2 linked regions of the Homo sapiens genome follow. The protein of the gene in region 2 purifies or fractionates together with the protein of the main gene of each other region. This does not show direct contact. Each region holds a gene or a part of one and is shown on either strand. Other genes may lie near its edges. The genes, in order: CDK8 and MED25.

Region 1 (8,867 bases), on a different chromosome or scaffold from region 2:
ACTCCATGTTTTGATTTATGAAAAATAAATTTATTACATAACACCTTGTTTTTAACAATGTTCAATTATTTTTTATTCAGAATACTTGTGTCATTCATGTAAAATAGTTTGATACAGTACATTGTATGTTATAGGTTTTTTTTTCCTCAAAAATTCTAAGGCTCTCCTACTCCTTCTCCTTTGCTGAAGTAAGGGCACCCTAAACAACGTGCGAACAAGTTTTCAAAAGGAAAATTAACTGAACGAAATTTTAATAGCACTACACCAACCAGCTTTAAAATCAGGACGAAAATATTTGAATTGGATGCCGCACCTTTTTAAGGAAGTTATCATTCATGCTTTTTTCATCTTAAAGCATGCTCACAAATCAGCAACACCAACAGGAAAAATAAAACACTGTCTATGACAATCATTTTAGTTTGTTTGCTGAACCAAACAGGTTTATATCAATGACAACATATTTAATTACTATCAAATAGCAGCTTTAATACCAGTCAAGTCATAGATTGAAAATAAAAACAAACTTATAAGTTGGAAGTTAATCTTTGGGAGTTTTGAAACCTTTCTGGAAAAACTATGTGGCTTTTTGTACTTTCAAAAAAATCCAAGCAATATTCTTGGTCAGAAAACACTGATTAATGTAGAAAATGAATCAGCCCACTGATAAGACACTAAAAAGAAAGGTGTACCAAAATAATCTCATTTCGAGTCTTGGTTATTTCGTTAACATATACTGTATGTTTCAAGTACCAGTTAAACTTTGTGTCTGTGTGTGTACTATTGGTCAGATAATGTTGTTACACTGAAAAAATTCACCACATACAAAGACAAATGCTTGCCCCTAGCACATTCACAGCTTCAACTGCTACAGACTGTCACTGAAAAAAATGCATTGGTCAGTCTGAACCATGTCAAGTAAACTATGGAAGTAGCAAATCCACAACACAAACTGTGCTAGCACTTTCTTTTCAAGTCTAACTCCAAAATAGGTACAACTTGGAAGCCACTACCCCAATCTGTGAAAAGTGGTGGAACTTGGCTACTGGACATTTTGAAGATGTGGTTGTACAGTACATTCTCATGGCCCATACCAGGTTCCCGCAGAGAGCTGCACAGTCAGCCCTGCAGCATTCGCAACAGTGCATGGACAAGATTCCGATGCAGCTCAGTACCGATGTGTCTGATGTGAGTACTGTGGAGGCTGCTGGGAGGTAGCTGAGTATCCCATGCTGCTCTGCGGCTGTGATGTGCTTGGTCCAGGGTTGGGATAGGCAGCATGTGGATTGGAACGCTGGAAAGGAGATGAGGGAAAAGTGTGATTCAGGTGCTTCTAGGGGAAGCTCAATCCCAATATGTGACTGAAGTGTCATTATGTTTCAAGGAAGAAAGGATGTATAGGTTTTGTGCTATGTACTAACTTTATAATTAAAGACAAAAACCCCAAATATTTTAACATCCTCTTCTCTTGAGGAAGGTCAGAAATATTGCTAGTAAATAATATTAAGCCTAGGCTTATTACTATGCTGTGCAAATACATTTTTTTCTACAGGAGTAACCCCTTTTTATGCTGTTTTGTATCTACTTGGTAAATTTGCTTGAGATGTTTACCCAGAAACTTAATGATGTATACATAAAAAATTCAAAGCTTATTTACATGCTTTCTTCAGTAGAAAACTCACCCCCACACACATGACTGAAGAGTAAAAGTGAGTATGATAGGAGAAGGTATCACAGAATCCATTTCTTTGGCATTAATACATTTTTATGCCCTTTAAACTATTTTTTTTTTCTTTTGAGACAGGGTGTCACTCTATCATCCAGGCTGGAGTGTAATGGTATAATCATTGCTAGGATTATAGGCATGCACCTCCATGCTCAGCTAATTTTTAAAAATTTTTTTTGAAGGAACAGAGTCTTGCTATGTTGCCCAGGTTGATTTCAAACTCCAGGCCTCAAGTGATCCTTCCCCTCAGCCTTCTAAACCACTGGGATTACGGGCATGAGCCACAGTGCCTGGCCCCTTTAAGCTACTGAATCTTATTTTCTGCTACAAGTTTATATACAAAAGTAAAAATATAACCACAGTAAGAAGGACGGTATTCTCAATTCTAAAATGGCACAAAGAGAAAGAATGTGATGGTTTGGGGTTCTCTAATTTTGATATGTTAGATTATTATTCCCATTCTCACACCTCTCTCTCATACTATTTGCTCCCAAGACAAACACTATAAAAGATTAACCAGAACTTATTACTTCTGTCTTTCAAAGCATATTTAATAAGACATATAATTCCAAATTCTGCCAATCCTAGAAAAGGTAACATTTTTAAAAAGAGTGGACACATGAAATGATAGTCACAAATACTATTTTAAAATTCATCCACAAAAAACCAACAACAATCACACCAACAAAGCAGCATGGCATCATTTTCTCGGTTCCAGAAGCGAAGGTCAGAGCACTGCTCTGCTTCCTTCTAAGGATGCCATCACCTTAGTGTGCAAACACATTTGTGGGCCAAGAGAGATGCACTCTTCCCATCCGGAAAGGAAGAAAAAGATACTGGAACCAACAACTCCCACAGCTGTCTGCCCTTGGTGTCCTTGTTTAGCTAACTGGAAGAGAATTACTACTCACACAACAGTGATTTCCATGGTGTGATGGGCTGGACTTCTCCCCTAACCAAAAGAAAGAGTTAATACCTAATTCTGAAAGTACAGTAACGAGCACTCGGGACCTTATCAGTTTAATAACATCTCTTTCTCTCTCTCTTTTTTTTTGTGTGTAAATAATTCTAATTGGTCAGATTTTCAGTATCCTTCCCACACTGAACCCTTGTGTAGTTGGGAATATGGTTAGAATAAGCAGAAGAGAAAAGGAGGTGGTATACAATTTTCAAAGAGGGTCTTTCCACAACGTAACTGACAATGCCATGATAGGATCCCTAAGCAGGCAACATAACAGCCTTTGTGGTCAGATCAAATATGAGTCCTGCATCTACAGCTTGCTGGGGATCCATGTGAAAGTTATTTAACCTCTACAAGCCTCAGTTTCCTGAAATGGCTGCAACACTTAACCTCCCAGAGTTATCTCATTTAATCCTTACTACAGCTTCACATTGATCATTATCCAGTCTACAAATGGAAACTGAGAACATCTGAATCACTTACTCAAGGATACAGAGAAGTAAGTGGCCAGACTGGGATCTGAAAGCCTATGTTCTTAATCACTGTGAAACATTGTTCCAAAACAATAGCTATCAAGCTCCTACCATAAGCTAGGTGTCAAGCCACTTCATGTCTAATCTGACAACAGCTGCAAGTTAGGTTTTACTAGTTTCATTTTACAGATGAAAAAACGCCAGGAGATATTATCCTACTTGTCCAAGGTCACACAGTTAATAAATGGCATAATTTGTATTTGATCATTCCAAGTCTGGTTCAAAAGTCTAAACCCTTGCTACCATACCACTGTCAGTACTTTTCCATGCCAGTAACATTTCATGTTAATGTATTTCCCTGGGTATACAGACGTCAGTATTTCTCAATTAAATCACATTTTCCCACGATCATAAACCCATATGTAAACACTGACATGCAGTCAATACAAAATAAACTTGGAATACCTGATAGTCTGAGGTCATGATAAGTCCACCTGAGGTAGTGGTAGGAGGAACAACTCTCACTTTCTTCAACGGGGGTCCCTGTGTGTGACTGCTGTCTTGATTCCCTGGGTGGCCAGTTCCATTAGTGTGGTTATTGCCCTGCTGCTGCTGCTGGTTCTTCTCAATTGGTTAAACAGAAAAAGTTCAGCTCAGAGGGAGAACAAAATATACCCACAATGGAAAATGTTATGGAGGCATTCACGAAACAAGAAGCTGCTAACAGTACTTTAATACTTACTTTGTCTCCTTTGTCATCAGGTTCTTCTTCCGTTAAAAATTCTCGTTTTGGGTAAGGGATTTGACAACCGGCAAAAACGCTGATCATAAGAAAAAGAAAAACCATTTCTGGTATACTAATCAATATTCCAAATGCTTCATTTAGGAGATTCTCATTTTAATCTTTTAAGATGAACTTTGTCTCCATATTTGCAAATATAAGCACCTTTCATGTAACTGTGACAAAACGAATCTTTTCTTTGTAACTAGTAATATTACAGCAGGCTACTTGAGGGCTTGAGCTGTATACAAATGATCAATAATCATCGAGTATGATTCAGCTTTCTTCTTTTATCCCAGCATTACTCTTCTATTAATACAGACCAAATATAGATTCTAGCTGAAGTATGTGTCACCATTCAAAGGTAATTTTTGTTTTACCCTTCCTACTACATTTATTAACAAAACAAAAGATGGTATAGGGAACACATTTGGGAATATTTGCAATTTTGGAACATGAAACTGTAACTGCAGACAGTAAGGAGCTACAGCACGCATAACCAACCTGTCACTGAATAGCTGGATCACTACTGAAACTAATGTGATCAGCATTTCATAAAGCAAGAGATGAACAGGAATGCCTCTTAACTGGAAAGCCCCTAAATGACACTTTAATCAGCAAAGCTCATTTTTGCTTGTCATAAAGGATTTCCTTGGGTTCCCATATAAGAGGAGGAGCAACTTAAGAGCTGACAAGCAGAAGAAAGCATACTCCAAAACTTCCATCATGCTGATGAGTTAACCAACTAGGCCACTTACTCTGATGTAGGAAGTGGGTCTTCTAAGAAATAGGGGTCCTGCATAGCCTGTTCTGAGGTAATTCGCTTTATTGGGTCCATGGTAAGCAGCTTCTGAAGCTGAAATCACAAATCATACAAACATGACGGTATTGCTTCTCACAGTTATCTTTCAGCACATATGTGAAGACGATATATATTTTTTGGTGAATAACATCACAATTTGGAAAATATTTATTCCCCCAAATTAACAACAAAACTCCTAGTTGTTAAATTTAATGTAGTAATTCACACTTTAGTCATTCCAGTTTCATAATCTCACTTGTTTTACTCTTGCTTATGTTCTCTGACTAAACAAATGGATCCCCACCCCCATTATCTAAATGGCTTTATCCAATTTAGAACAGGACCAAAATTTGTGTATTTTCTATTCTTTTTCTATTAAGATAAAAAAGCTGTTGTTACACATATAATACACTAACACATGCAGTGATTCATATTTAGATCCAAGTTAATCAAAACTGAATTAAATAAAAAAGTCAATCTCCCCATTACACCAGGCACATTTCAAGAGCCAAATGTGGCTAGTGGCTACGCTACTGCACTGTGCAGATCATCACAGAAAGTGGTACTGTGCAGTGCTGTTCTAGTCTAAATAAAAATGGTGATACACAACTTACAAAGTACAGAGCTGTGTGATGAGCAGAGACTCTGAAAGTCGACTGCTCCATTCAAATCCTGACTCAACATTTATTAGCTGCGTGACATTGGATAAGTTACCTTAATATTTTTGTTACCTCATTTGTCAAATGGAGATTAAAAATGGTGACTATTATCACAGGTTGTTTTCAGGATTAAATGAGTTAATATATGGAGAGCAATTATAATGGTGCCTAGCATAAAGAAAGTACTATGTAAGTGCTTGCTCTTATTGTTATTATTACTATAAATGCCACACTAATGTGAAGATTCAGTATTTTTTAGTTAAGACATAGTTCATTCAATTGGATTCTAATATGTGGTCTCTTAGTTTATACTCTGATCTAATGCAGTGGCTTTCGGACTTTAGGATGCATGAGAATCACCTGGAGAACTTCTTAAAACAGACTGCTGGGCCCTCCTCACAGAGTTTCTGATTGGTAGATGTGAGTAGGAGCCAAAAGCCTGCATTTCCAACATGGCCCTACATGATACCATGCTGCTGGACTGAGACTGCATTTTGAAAACCAATGAACTAACAGACACATTAAGACTTAAAAGAGAGGCCAGGTGTGGTGGCTCACACCTGTAATCCCAGCACTTTGGGAGGCCAAGGTGGATGGATCACCTGAGGTCAGGAGTTCGAGACCAGCCTGGTCAACATGGTGAAACCCCATCTCTACTAATAATACAAAAATTAGCTGGGTGTGGTGGCAGGCGCCTGTAATCCCAGGTACTCGGGAGGCTGAGGCATGAGAATGGCTTGAACCTGGGAGGCAGAGGTTGCAGTGAGCCAAGATCACACCACTGCACTCTAGCCTGGTGACACAATGAAACTGTGTCTCCAACAAAAAAGACTTAAAGAAAGATGACAAATTTTACAGGATAAAAAGACATTTTTTTTTTTTTTTGAGATAGAGTCTTGCTTTGTTGCCAGGCTAGAGTGCAGTGGCACGATCTAGGCTCACTGCAACCTCCACCTCCTGGGTTCAAGCGATTCTCCTGCCTCAACCTCCCGAGTAGCTGGGACTACAGGCATGTACCACCACACTCAGCTACTTTTTGTATTTTTAGGAGTTTCACCACATTGGCCAGGATGGTCTCAATCTCCTGACCTTGTGATCCGCCCGCCTCGGCCTCCCAAAGTGCTGGGATCACAGGCGTGAGCTACCACGCCAGGCCGACACGACATATTTTAAGATGCAAATAAAACGCTAGAATGGTGAGATTAAAATTTAATTTTAATGATCTGATATTTCAGAGAAAGCACAATTTTATTTTTAGGGTTGAAAGGAAAGGCCTGAATTTGCTATTGAAAATACCCAACAGTTTTAATGGAATTATAATAGGGCTTTCCTAAGAGACTACTCAAGATTACCTCCAATTAAGATGGGTCACCCTGGTAAAAACAAGCACATAAGCTACAAGGAAGGTATATCTCTAGAGTTTTAGTGGTGATGGTAGGCAGAGTCATCCTAGACTATAATGAGTAGCAGGGAATCAAGGAGAATAATAATTCCCCTAAGTCATGACTTCTAATCTTCTGCCACTATCATTATTTTATTAGAATCAGTAAGTCCATAATTTCGAAGGATCTAACTTAGACCTCTAATTTGGGTCCTACTGTAAGTACATTATAATAAACCATTATCTGGATAATATATTGTGTGGTAATATGACAGGTTAAGAATGACTTTTTAAATTGCTGTTAAGATATGAAATACATGATATAAAATGTGAACTGATATAATAGTAAGTAGAAAATACAGAAGGAGAAGCAGTAGAAAGCGAAGAAAAAGGAGAAACAAAGGAAGAACAGAAGAAATGTTTGCCAAATGGCCTGGTTGCAATAAAGGAAAGGTTAACCTCTTCAAGGTGAAAGAATTCTCATTTAAGAACTTAGGAATAAGGATTAAAAGAATTTCAAGCCAAGCAAAATACAACCTGCTTCCCCAAACTCCCCTTCTATGTGTTATAAACCTTTTTCTAAAACAAAAAACATTATTAATTATTACGCTGTAACAATGGAAATTTTATTGTAAACAAAGTTGGTAATGGCTGTATATAATTTCATCACAAATTACCTTGTTAGTGCACGGATTCAATTAGATTCTAGGTTAAATCATTTTTCCATTACACACTGATAAATATGGCATCTATCACATTCTTCCAGAAAAATCAAATAGCACATATAATCGCTGAATGACTGTTAACATTTAAGGTTATAAGAGGTATTTTGGAAATTAAGAACTTTGTAAACAGTCTTTCAAAGAGCTGAAATACAAAACAATCTATTTATCAATGGTGAGAAGTACTTTCTTCTTGATACTTCTCTGGAACTTTTAAAATCTTAAACAGACGAAAAACAATACATGTAATTTTATAAATGTTTTGACAGATTTGTTACCATCGCTATCTTTAGAAAATCTAATGTGACCAAACATTAGTCTGTCAAACCATGATATGAGTCTGGAAGAGCAAATAGTTTATTGTCTTTATTGGTATGCACTAACAAGATCTCTGCATTTACCATGAAAGCACTCTGAGTGCTAGCTAAGTAACCACATAAATTGATCCAAAAAAGCCTCAGTTGGGCTAGTCAATTAAGGAAAAAATGCATTTCATTAATACTGTTAACCAATGCTTACCAAGTGGAATGCTTTACTATCTGGTTTAACTTTATGTTTTTCCATATACTTGATAAGGCTGCAGTTGGTATACCTGAAAGAGAAATACTATGAAATAGCTATATTAGACTTGAGGTTAATTGTACATTGGCTAAAGTCCTTCTGATGAGAATTATTTTGATCATAACCGATATAAAATATATATTGAAAACACTATGAGCATAAAATGAGTAGAATTAAATCAGTTTTCTATTTCATTCAATATCCACAATGGTCACTTTTGAAAGGATACCGATGATTAAATGTAAGACAATTTCATGAATAACAGACACTAAACAGCTTTTTTTTTCACATGAATTATATTTTAACAATTATTTTAAATAACATCTGGGTCAAAAGTTTAATTCAGCCTTACCAATAAGTGTAAAATACTTTTGTCATAGGTATACAAACTAAACTCTCCCAATCCCTGGCTTTGCATTGTAAACAGGTGAAATATCCATTCTTCTCTGTTAAAACCTGCTTAAAATTACTGTAACCTAGATTGGTGAGCAAGTGGCTATTACCAAAGTTTATTTATTTAGATTCTTATTTATTCAGCTGTGATACTTCTCACTAATGTCTAGCTTCCAAAAAGTAGTCAATATGGAAAGACATGAATTTGTTTTATATCCAAATCAGCTGCTAATATTAGTCACTTTTGTATATAATCATTTAAGCATCTTAAGAAATAAAGACTGTCATCATGAAAAATATTTATTAGAGTAAATAAGTAAAATTATTTATTAGAGTAATCTTATATTGAGTATTTTATTATGTTGAATATTCAGTCTTACACTGAGTATTCTGGTAAAGCAAAAATCAACA
Region 2 (8,867 bases):
CTGGCCCTAAGACCACATTTCCCAGCAATCCCAGGAGCACACACAGGAGGATCATGGGAAACGCTCTTAACCCACTAGGTCCTTGGACCCATGGGCTGTACTTTCCCGGAGCCCTCAGAGCTCCGCAAAGGCCATGGGGGAACCCTCATTCTTGGATCCTATGTCTTTACTTCCCAGGAGCACTCGGTCTTGGTGCTCTAGCCCAGGAGCTGCTGGGACACTCAGTCCAGACCTCTGCCCTCCCCCGGGTCCCCTTACCTGGCAGTGGAGCCCGAGGGGGAAGTTGTGCGGGCCAGGACTGGGCAGGTGGTGGATGCAGGAGTGGGGGCCCCAACTGGGGCTGCCCCAGGCCCTGGTGCGGCGGAGGCAGCAGCGCAGGAGCCCCTGGTGGCTGGAGGTGGTGGAGGGAGGCCTGGGGTGGGGGCACCCCAGTCTGCGGCTGGGAGAACACAGAGAGTGGCTCAGAGGCTCCTGGTAGAGACTCCCCACCTCTCAACACAGACACTGCTCAGAGATGGAATCAGCTAGTGGTGAGGGGAAGTTTTTCTTCAAAGGTGGGGGATGGACGGAGAGGAGGCGGTCTGCCTTCTGCCTAAAGCCCTGGGCGGGTCCCCATTCACACCCACTGACCACAGTCAACCTCCCTCCTCCCAGACAACAGGACCAGAACCACCAGGGCCAGGATCTGGAACTCTCGCTACCCCACCCCAACATCTCACCGGTGGTGGGTTGAGGAGGAGGCTTCGCAGCTGAGGGTTGGCCCCAGGGTTCTGGGGCCGAAGGATGGGTCCAGGAGGGGGTGGGCCAGAAGCTGCTCCAGGAGGGCCTTGAGGGGCACCTGGCGGGGGCTGGGCAGTACCTTGGGGCTGGGGCTGCCCCGTGGCCCCAGAGGCCCCTACGGTACCCTGAGGCTGGGGCTGCGGTGGGCGGAGCTGGAGCTGGTGGGAAGAGACACAGGGGTGAGGGAGATGGGCAGGGCCTCACGCCCCTTCTGCAGGCACAGAGCGCAGCCTTGGGGCCTCCCCAACCCAGCCCCGACCCCGCCAGCCCTGTCCTCACCAGATTCTGTGAGGGCCTGGCTTGGTCCTCCAGAATGGGCCCCAGCCCTGGGGGTGCCTGCTGTCCCCCCATCTGCACGGGGAGAGAGGGGCAGGTCAGTAACTGAGGGTGGTGGCATCCTGAATCTGAGGCGGGAGGGCCTGTGCCCTGAGGGGAACTAGTAAGGAGATGGGGACATTCTCTTTGGGGGTGAGTGGTCTGGGAGGGATGCCGTACACTCCAAGGTCTCCAGGAGGAAGCTGTGTCAGGGCTTTGATGTGGATGCTGAAAAAGGAGAGAGACTGCAAGAAAATCTGAGTGGGACTTAGCTTGGAGGCACCACATATTGGGAGAAGGGTGGGCATCTTGGTCCTGGAGACCCCAGGGGGCCATGTGGGGCCCGGGCAGGAGGGGGTCGGAGTGCTGGTTTGGGGACTGTCAACACTCACTCCTCGCTGCTGCTGCTCCAGCTTCTGCTGCTGGACCTGCTTGTGGTTGGTGATGACCTGCCGGATGCCGTTGACGAAGCCGCTCTGGTCGTAGGGGATGAGGCCCATGAAGATCTTCTTCTTGGACGAGTACAGGAGCATGAGCACGCGCACCTCACAGGGCGCCGTGTGGGGGAAGTGCACGCAGCCCGCCTGGGTGGACAACAGCTCTTCAGAACCATTCAGGCCCTGAAAGAGGCAGCCCTGACCCCCTCCCCATTCCAGAAGGCTCTAGAGGCCCCACAGGCAAGGTGAGGTGAGGTTTCTGCTATAGAAGGTTAAGGAGAACAGGTGTGCTATGGGTTGCTCTGGAGACAGAAACTGAGGCGCTCAGGGCAAGCTAGGGTTCCAGCTGCCCACTGAGAGGGAAAGCGGAGAGAAAGTGCTGGAGCCCAGCTCTTCAACCTTCAGCCACCACCTGCTCCTCATGGACCCAGTTTCTTGGGCATAAAATGCCACGGCGGCCTCCTCAGAGGGCGGCTGAGGGTCACGGCCGGGAGAGCGGCCTAGATGCACAGCGTGGTACCCACAGGCCTGTGATCAACGGTGGGTCGGACCCCGGGTATCCAAGAGATCCTCCAGCCCTCAGCACCGGCCAGTGTACACCACGGGGAGTGCTCCCACATCACAGGGTCGCTGTGACTATGCGATGTCTGATCCACAGCAAGAGCCCTGCCTGAGGCTCAGCCCACAGGAAGCACCCAGGAAACATCACTGGTCATCAGGGGGGTAACACATGGAGCATTCAGGGCAGGGGCTCCTGAGGGAGGCGAGGCTGACCTTGGCCAAGTGAATTGACTTCTCTGAGCCTCGGTTTCCTGCCTGAGACAGACCCTGCTAGCTGCCTATTCCATATCCAAGTGTCCTCCTCCCCTGCATTCCCAATGCTGTCTGGGGCTGTAACATGTCCCAGCCCCAGACAGTCACGGATACCTGCTCCCAGCAGCCTCCCATCAACTAGGGGCTGCCCAGTGGCCTAGGTCCGGGATAGGAGGTGAAAGGAATGCCTGCTCTGGAATCTGAGAAAGTTTCTGCTGTCTTGAAGAAAGGGAAACACACAGCCCCCTTCCCCTCCTTCATGAAAGCACACAGGATGCGTGGAGCCATGAGAGCTACCTTGTGACTATAAAGGAGAGGCCAAGAGAACCACAGGGCCCTGTCCCTGATGTCACAGACCTATGAAACCAATCCCAATAGCTGGCCCCCTCTAGATGTCCTGTCCTGTGCAAAATATAAATGCCTGCTCCTACAACGCCTGCCCTCTCAGAACCCAGCTGCCACAGTGTGGCCACGTGGACAGGCCATGTGCAGACACTGGGATGGCCGGTCCTAGCCAAGCCCCAGCCAACAGCCAGGGCTGTGTGAGGAGCTGTTTTGAACATCCAGCCCAGTAAAGGTTTCAGATGACCAGAGTCTCAGCTGCCATCTGATGGCAACCCCGTGAGAGTCGCCAAGCGAGATGGCCCACTGAGCCCAGGTGACCCACAGAATCATAAGAGAACATTTTTTCCGAGTGCCCCCAATTATCTATGTGTTTGGGAAACTACGTGATTTGCAGCCGGAAGTACTAACTCTCAGGAATGCCTTCTTCACAAGGTTCTGTGAGGGTCTCGTGAGGTGATCCCCCTAAGGTTCTCTTTCCTGCAGGAGTGCCTGGTGCACGGAAGTAACTGATCTGCTCCTTCCCCGAGTTACAAAGTGTGAACTGTGACTCCCAGAAAGCTATGCTGAGGCTGGGCGCGGTGGCTCACACCGGTAATCCTAGCACTTTGGGAGGCCGAGGCAGGCAGATCACTTGAGGTCAGAAGTTCGAGACCAACCTGGCCAACATGGTGAAACCCTGTCTCTACTAAAAAATACAGAAATTAGCTGGGCATAGTGGCACATGCCTGTAATCCCAGCTACTTGGGAGGCTGAGGCAGGAGAATCGCTTGAACCCAGGAGACGGAAGTTGCTGTGAGCCAAGATTGCACCACTGCACTCCAGCCTGGCTGACAACAGTGAAACTCTGTCTCAAAAAACAAAACCAGAAAGCTAAGCTGAGGTTCCAGTCCCCAGCACCTGTGAAGGTGACTCTATCTGGAAAGAGGGTCTTTGCAATTGTAGTAAGATGAGGTCAGGAAAATGGGGCCTAATCCAAAATTACTGATGTCCTTATAAGCACAGACACAAAGATACAGAGAGAATGCCATGTGGAGACACACACAGAGGGAAGACAGCTGCGGGATGGAGGAAGACCCTGGAGCGATGCCACCTGAAGCCTGGGGTTACCGGCCGGAAGAGGCAACGAAGAGGCCTTCCCTCCAGCCTCTAGAGAGAGCGTGGCCCTGCTGACACCCTGACCTTGGGCTTCTGGCCTCCAGAACTGGGATAGAACACGTTTCTGTTGTTTTAAGCCCCTCTGCTTGTGGTAATGTGTTACCACAGCCACAGGAAATGAACACATCCCATAAAGCCATGCCAGAATCAACAGCTTCCTCCTAACTGATCCTGTCACATCCAGCTCACATTTTTAATGTGGAATATCCCTCAAATCTGGTGCATACGATGATTATAATAAAAGTCACGGCTCTAGAAGAAAGGCGAGGAACCTAAGGGCATGAAGTGCACCCAACCATCAAAAACGGCTTCCGTGGGCCCAGGCACTCTGGGATTCCCGTCAAAGGTCAGCAGAAAGCAGGACAAGAGTCAACACCCCTCGGCCCCCCATGCCCTGGACTCACGAAGCCGTTGCCCATGATGCGGTAGAGGCCTTTGAGAGACTCCAGGTCCTTGTTGGTGAAATGGAACTGGACCATCCTTGAGTTCCGGAACAAAGGGCCCAGGGTGGTCTGCGGGAGACACAGAAGTCGGCTGGCATGCTGGTGTGGGCAAGTGAGGCGGGGACATGAGGCAGGGAGTGGGGGTGGGGCAGGGAACAGGAAAGAGACAGCAGGGTGAGGACTGCCCGGCAGCAGGGCTGGCCCTCCACCGCCACTCACCAGCAGCTGCTGGGGGATGAGCTGCATGATCAGCTTCTGGGGCCACTGCTCCGTCTTCCTGGGGGCGATGCCAGGAGAGGTGTGAGGAGGGGGCCAGCCCCAGCCCCACCACACCCCGCCCCTGACTGTCACCTACAGGTTCTCGCCATGATTCACGTAGACCTGGCAGGGCAGTGACCGCGTCAGCTTGGTGTTGGCATCCACTGAGGCAGGTTTGGGTTTCTGAGGGGGAAAAAAGAGCATGTCAGTAAAAAGGGCCATAAGCCTCAGTCCCCTTGAGCCCTCATGTCCTACCCTGGTAGCCCCAAAGCTCAGGATGTTCCCCAGTTTAAGTCCCATGAGCCCCAGGCCCCTCCTCCAGACCAGCAAGCCTTCAGTTCCTCAAATGTTACAGCTACGTGCCCGGCCCCTAAATCCCACCATCCACTGTGCCCCAGATGATACATCGCCTGGGCTCTTCTCTGGGCCCCAAATCCTGGGCTTTTCTGGGTTCTTTGCATGGGGACTCTCCTCTGTACCGCAAGTCCCACCACTCCATGGGGCTCCTGGCCTCGCCCCGCATCCCACAGGTCCAGCGCAACGAATGCCTCCAAACCCAGCACTGCAGACCCCACGCATCTGGCCCCATGAGTCCTACATGCCCAGCCCCACGGCCCCAGGAGTCCCAAGTGCCCAATGGACCCTCAGGCCCCTCACCTCTTGCCACTCCAGGACCCCGCTCCAGGCCAGAAGCTTATTGGAGACTGACTGCTGCCCACCGAGGGCTGGGGCTCCCAGCTGGGCTGGGGAAGGGCCGCTCACCCCTCCTGGGGCCACAGTGCCTGCCTGCCAGAGGGGAGGAAGGAGGGCCATGAGAATGGGGAAGGCCGGGAGCCTCCGGGGGCCATCCTGTGAGGGCAAACCAGGAAGGAGGAAAGATCCCTTCTTCTGCCCCTCCATCCCCAGAACAGCACTTGGCCAGCCGCAGGACCCCAAATGCTTGGACCTTGCAGGATTCGAGGACTCGTAAGCTGTGCGATGCCCTGGACTCCCAGACCCAGGGATTCCTTGGGTTTCTCGGAACAGCCCTGACCCTCCTGGAGCCATGAGCCTCCCCACTCTGTCCCCAGACCCTCATCTCAGGCATCTGCAGCACACACACCACGAGCCCCCAAAGCCCCAGAACCACGAGAGCCACATCCCCCTGGAAGGCAAATGACTCATCCTCTAACTGTCCTAGCTGTGGACAGCAGGAGGAAGGAGCAGGGGCAGGAGGCGTGCAGGCACCTACCATGGACGGTGCCCCGGGCTGTGCCGTGGGAGCCAGGCCGGAGCCAGGGGCCACAGTGGAGACCAGACTGGGCTGGGAAGCAGGTGGTGGCTTGGGGGCGCCAGGGGGTCCTGGGGGTAGTTGGGGAGCTGGGGCCTGGCTGAAGGGGGGACCCACTCCGGGAGCAGCTTGTTGGAGAGGGGTGATGGGCGAGACTGTGGGAGAGACCAAGGGAAGAAGTGGGGAACAAGTGTGTGGAGAGAGGCCTGCCTGGCCCCTGCCCGCCCTTCATCCTCACTCCAGGACTCACAGCGAGGGCCCAGCCCAGCCTTCTGGTTCTTGGCAGCCTCCACTGCATTCTGCGCGGCCACCTGAGCTGCACTCAGGTTCCCGGGAACCTGTGGGTAGAAGGGAAGAAGGGAAGGGACTGGTGAGGACCATGGCCCCCCAGTCCTGGTATCCCACGAGGTCACACCACCCATGGCCCCATGAGGCACCAGCTGGGATAGCTTAGCTCACAACACCCATCACACAGCACATGAGCTTCCATGGCCCCAAGAGTCCCACCTTCCCAATGTCCCATGGGACTCCCATCATCCCACAAGCTCCAACATGCAACTAGATTTCTCCCCAGGGGCCAGGGCTCCAGCAAGTCCCCAGAAGCATGTCCCTTCCCGGAAATATCCATACCTGGTACTGCGGGGGGACGGGGGGCAGAGGCTGCTGGGGGGCTGCTGAGAGAGTGGCACCTGAGGGTGCGGCGGGAGGCAGGGGGACTGGCTGCTTTGACTGGAGGGGGCCTGGGGCTGAGCCACCCCCAACTGAGAGCAGGAGGGATGGCCAACCCCAGAGAGAAGGGATTCAAGATGCAGAGAAAGGAGAGAAATCCAAAATCCAAGTCAGAGGGAGCTGGGGAAACACGTCGAGCCCCCATCCCCGCGCACGGTGCCCAGGCCTCACCAGGCAGCACGAGTCCCCGAACCAGCACCATGTGCCTCGGGTCCTGGCTCACATCTGTCGGAGGCTGCAGCGGCTCCAGCAAGGCCGGGGGGGCTGCCTTCTCAAACAGAAGCCGAAGCGCAGGCAGCTTCCGGGGAGACACAATGGAGAAGTGGATCCCCCGCTGTAGGAGAGGGGCCGAGCAGTCATGACGGGCCCCCTCCATAAGGGTGTTGGGGCCGGCCCCCAACCTACCACAACTGCTGTGTGGCTGGACGGCACCAGCCCTACAACCACAATTCCCATTGGGCTTTGAGGCAGGAGACCCTGAAACCAGGTATCACCTGCCCCGGGAGACTCTGGGTTCTAGTTTTGTCAGTAAGACTAAGTGGGCCAGGTGTGGAGGCTCACGTCTGTAATCCCAGGATTTTGTGAGACCGAGTCAGGCAGATCACATGAGGCCAGGAGTTTGAGAGCAGTCTGGCCAACATGGTGAAACCTCATCTCTACTAAAGATACAAAAATCAGCTGGGCGTGGTGGCGGGCGTCTATAATCCCAGCTACTCGGGAGGCTGAAACATGAGAATTGCTTGAACCCTGGAGGCAGAGGCTGCAGTGGGCCAAGATCACACCACTGCACTCCAGCCTGGGTAACAGAGCCAGACTGTTTCGAAAAGAGAGTAAGCAAAGCTGGTCACCAGTCTGTGACTATTCTGTGTCTGAGTCCAGGCCCCCAGTGCCTCCCCGCTTAGACCCAAGAGTCCAGGCCCCCAGTGCCTCCTCCCTCAGACCCAGGAGTCCAGGCCCTCAGTGCCTCCTGCCTCAGACCCAAGACTCCGGGCCCCCAGACCCTCGTCCCTCAGACCCTGGAGTCCTCACCTCCCCAATCTGCTGCACAAGATTCTCAGTTGTGCATCCAGAGTACGTGGTGCTCTCAACAGCAGGCAACAAGTATGGGGGTGAGTTGCAGATGAGGAGGCAGACCCGGTGCGTCTGGCCACTACCAGGAAAGAGAGAAGACATGGAGCCAGCAGCAACAGAGGCCCTGAGAAGGAACCCAGACCCAGCACCAGCGGAGATGCACATATTCCGCCTCACATGGAATCAGAAGCAACGCCCCTACTTTACAGCTGAGAACACTGAGGCTCCAAGAGGTTCTGGGATGTGCTCTACGTCACCCAGCAGGCAGGGCAGGCAGGAGTGACACCCAGAGTTGGCACTGCTTCCTGATGGGGATGCTGAGACCGGGCACTGGCCAGGCGTCCCCCAAGGACACACCTGCAGCCTCCTGGCTCAGCGTGCTTGGGGACACAGAGCCCATGCCCTACAGGGTGAGGCTGGAGGTAGAACCACTCGACAGGCAAAGTGGTTCCAGGCCAGGCAGAGAGAGACCGGCCCGGCCTGGGTGGAGGGGGCACTCACATCTGCTCGCGCATCTTCTTGAAGTCATCAAACAGCTGCAAGGCTGTGCTGAGTCCTTCCGCGATGAGGCTGCAGCTCTCACCACCCCCGCCCATGAACCTGCAGGGGCAGAGCGGTCAGCCCCCAGGGTTGCCATCATCCCCATCCCCAGGCTATGCTTGAAGAGCCTGCTCCCATGCTGTCCCCCACTCTATCCTGGGCTATGCACCTTGGGATGACGGGGACCCTGCTGAGTTCCCTACCCAATCCCTGGTGCTAGCACAGCACCAGTCCCAGACAGGACAGGGGACATTTGCTGTCTGTGTTTTTTTTTTTTTTTGAGATGGAGTCTCGCTCTGTCGCCCAGGCTGGAATGCAGTGGCATGATCTCAGTTCACTGCAAGCTCCGCTTCCTGGGTTCATGCCATTCTCCTGCCTCAGTCTCCCGAGTAGCTGGGACTACAGGTGCCTGCCACCACACCTGGCTAATTTTTTGTATTTTTAGTAGAGACGGGATTTCACCATGTTAGCCAGGATGGTCTCCATCTCCTGACCTCATGATCCACTTGCCTCAGCCTCCCAAAGTGCTGGGATTGCAGGAGTGAGCCACCACACCCGGCCGACATTTGTTGTCTTTAATCATGAGGACTGGGAGGGAATGGGAAAGGGCTGGGGACCCCAAGCCTAGGATCCTGTGCTGACTCCAACCCTGGAGTGACTGACTCCATGCCCAGCCTCCTGCTGTCCCCTCCCCTCTCTGGGCTGTCTGCT

Evidence for each region.
Region 1: the proteins of MED25 (region 2) and CDK8 purify together in Homo sapiens (affinity purification with mass spectrometry; 9 studies listed by BioGRID and IntAct, with this or other methods). This does not show direct contact.

What each region holds. Positions count from the first base shown.
Region 1 is NC_000013.11:26,396,380-26,405,246, reverse strand, and holds the end of CDK8 (cyclin-dependent kinase 8), read right to left. Parts: intron 8,095-8,867; coding exon 8,022-8,094; intron 4,795-8,021; coding exon 4,697-4,794; intron 3,979-4,696; coding exon 3,900-3,978; intron 3,782-3,899; coding exon 3,623-3,781; intron 1,292-3,622; coding exon 1,166-1,291; 3' UTR 9-1,165; downstream 1-8.
Region 2 is NC_000019.10:49,827,798-49,836,664, reverse strand, and holds part of MED25 (mediator of RNA polymerase II transcription subunit 25), read right to left. Parts: intron 8,217-8,867; coding exon 8,118-8,216; intron 7,696-8,117; coding exon 7,575-7,695; intron 6,880-7,574; coding exon 6,717-6,879; intron 6,578-6,716; coding exon 6,447-6,577; intron 6,155-6,446; coding exon 6,067-6,154; intron 5,972-6,066; coding exon 5,778-5,971; intron 5,333-5,777; coding exon 5,204-5,332; intron 4,730-5,203; coding exon 4,644-4,729; exon of another isoform or gene 4,566-4,643; coding exon 4,508-4,565; intron 4,358-4,507; coding exon 4,250-4,357; intron 1,680-4,249; coding exon 1,488-1,679; intron 1,132-1,487; coding exon 1,060-1,131; intron 939-1,059; coding exon 720-938; intron 440-719; coding exon 259-439; intron 1-258. UniProt on the Homo sapiens protein: Component of the Mediator complex, a coactivator involved in the regulated transcription of nearly all RNA polymerase II-dependent genes.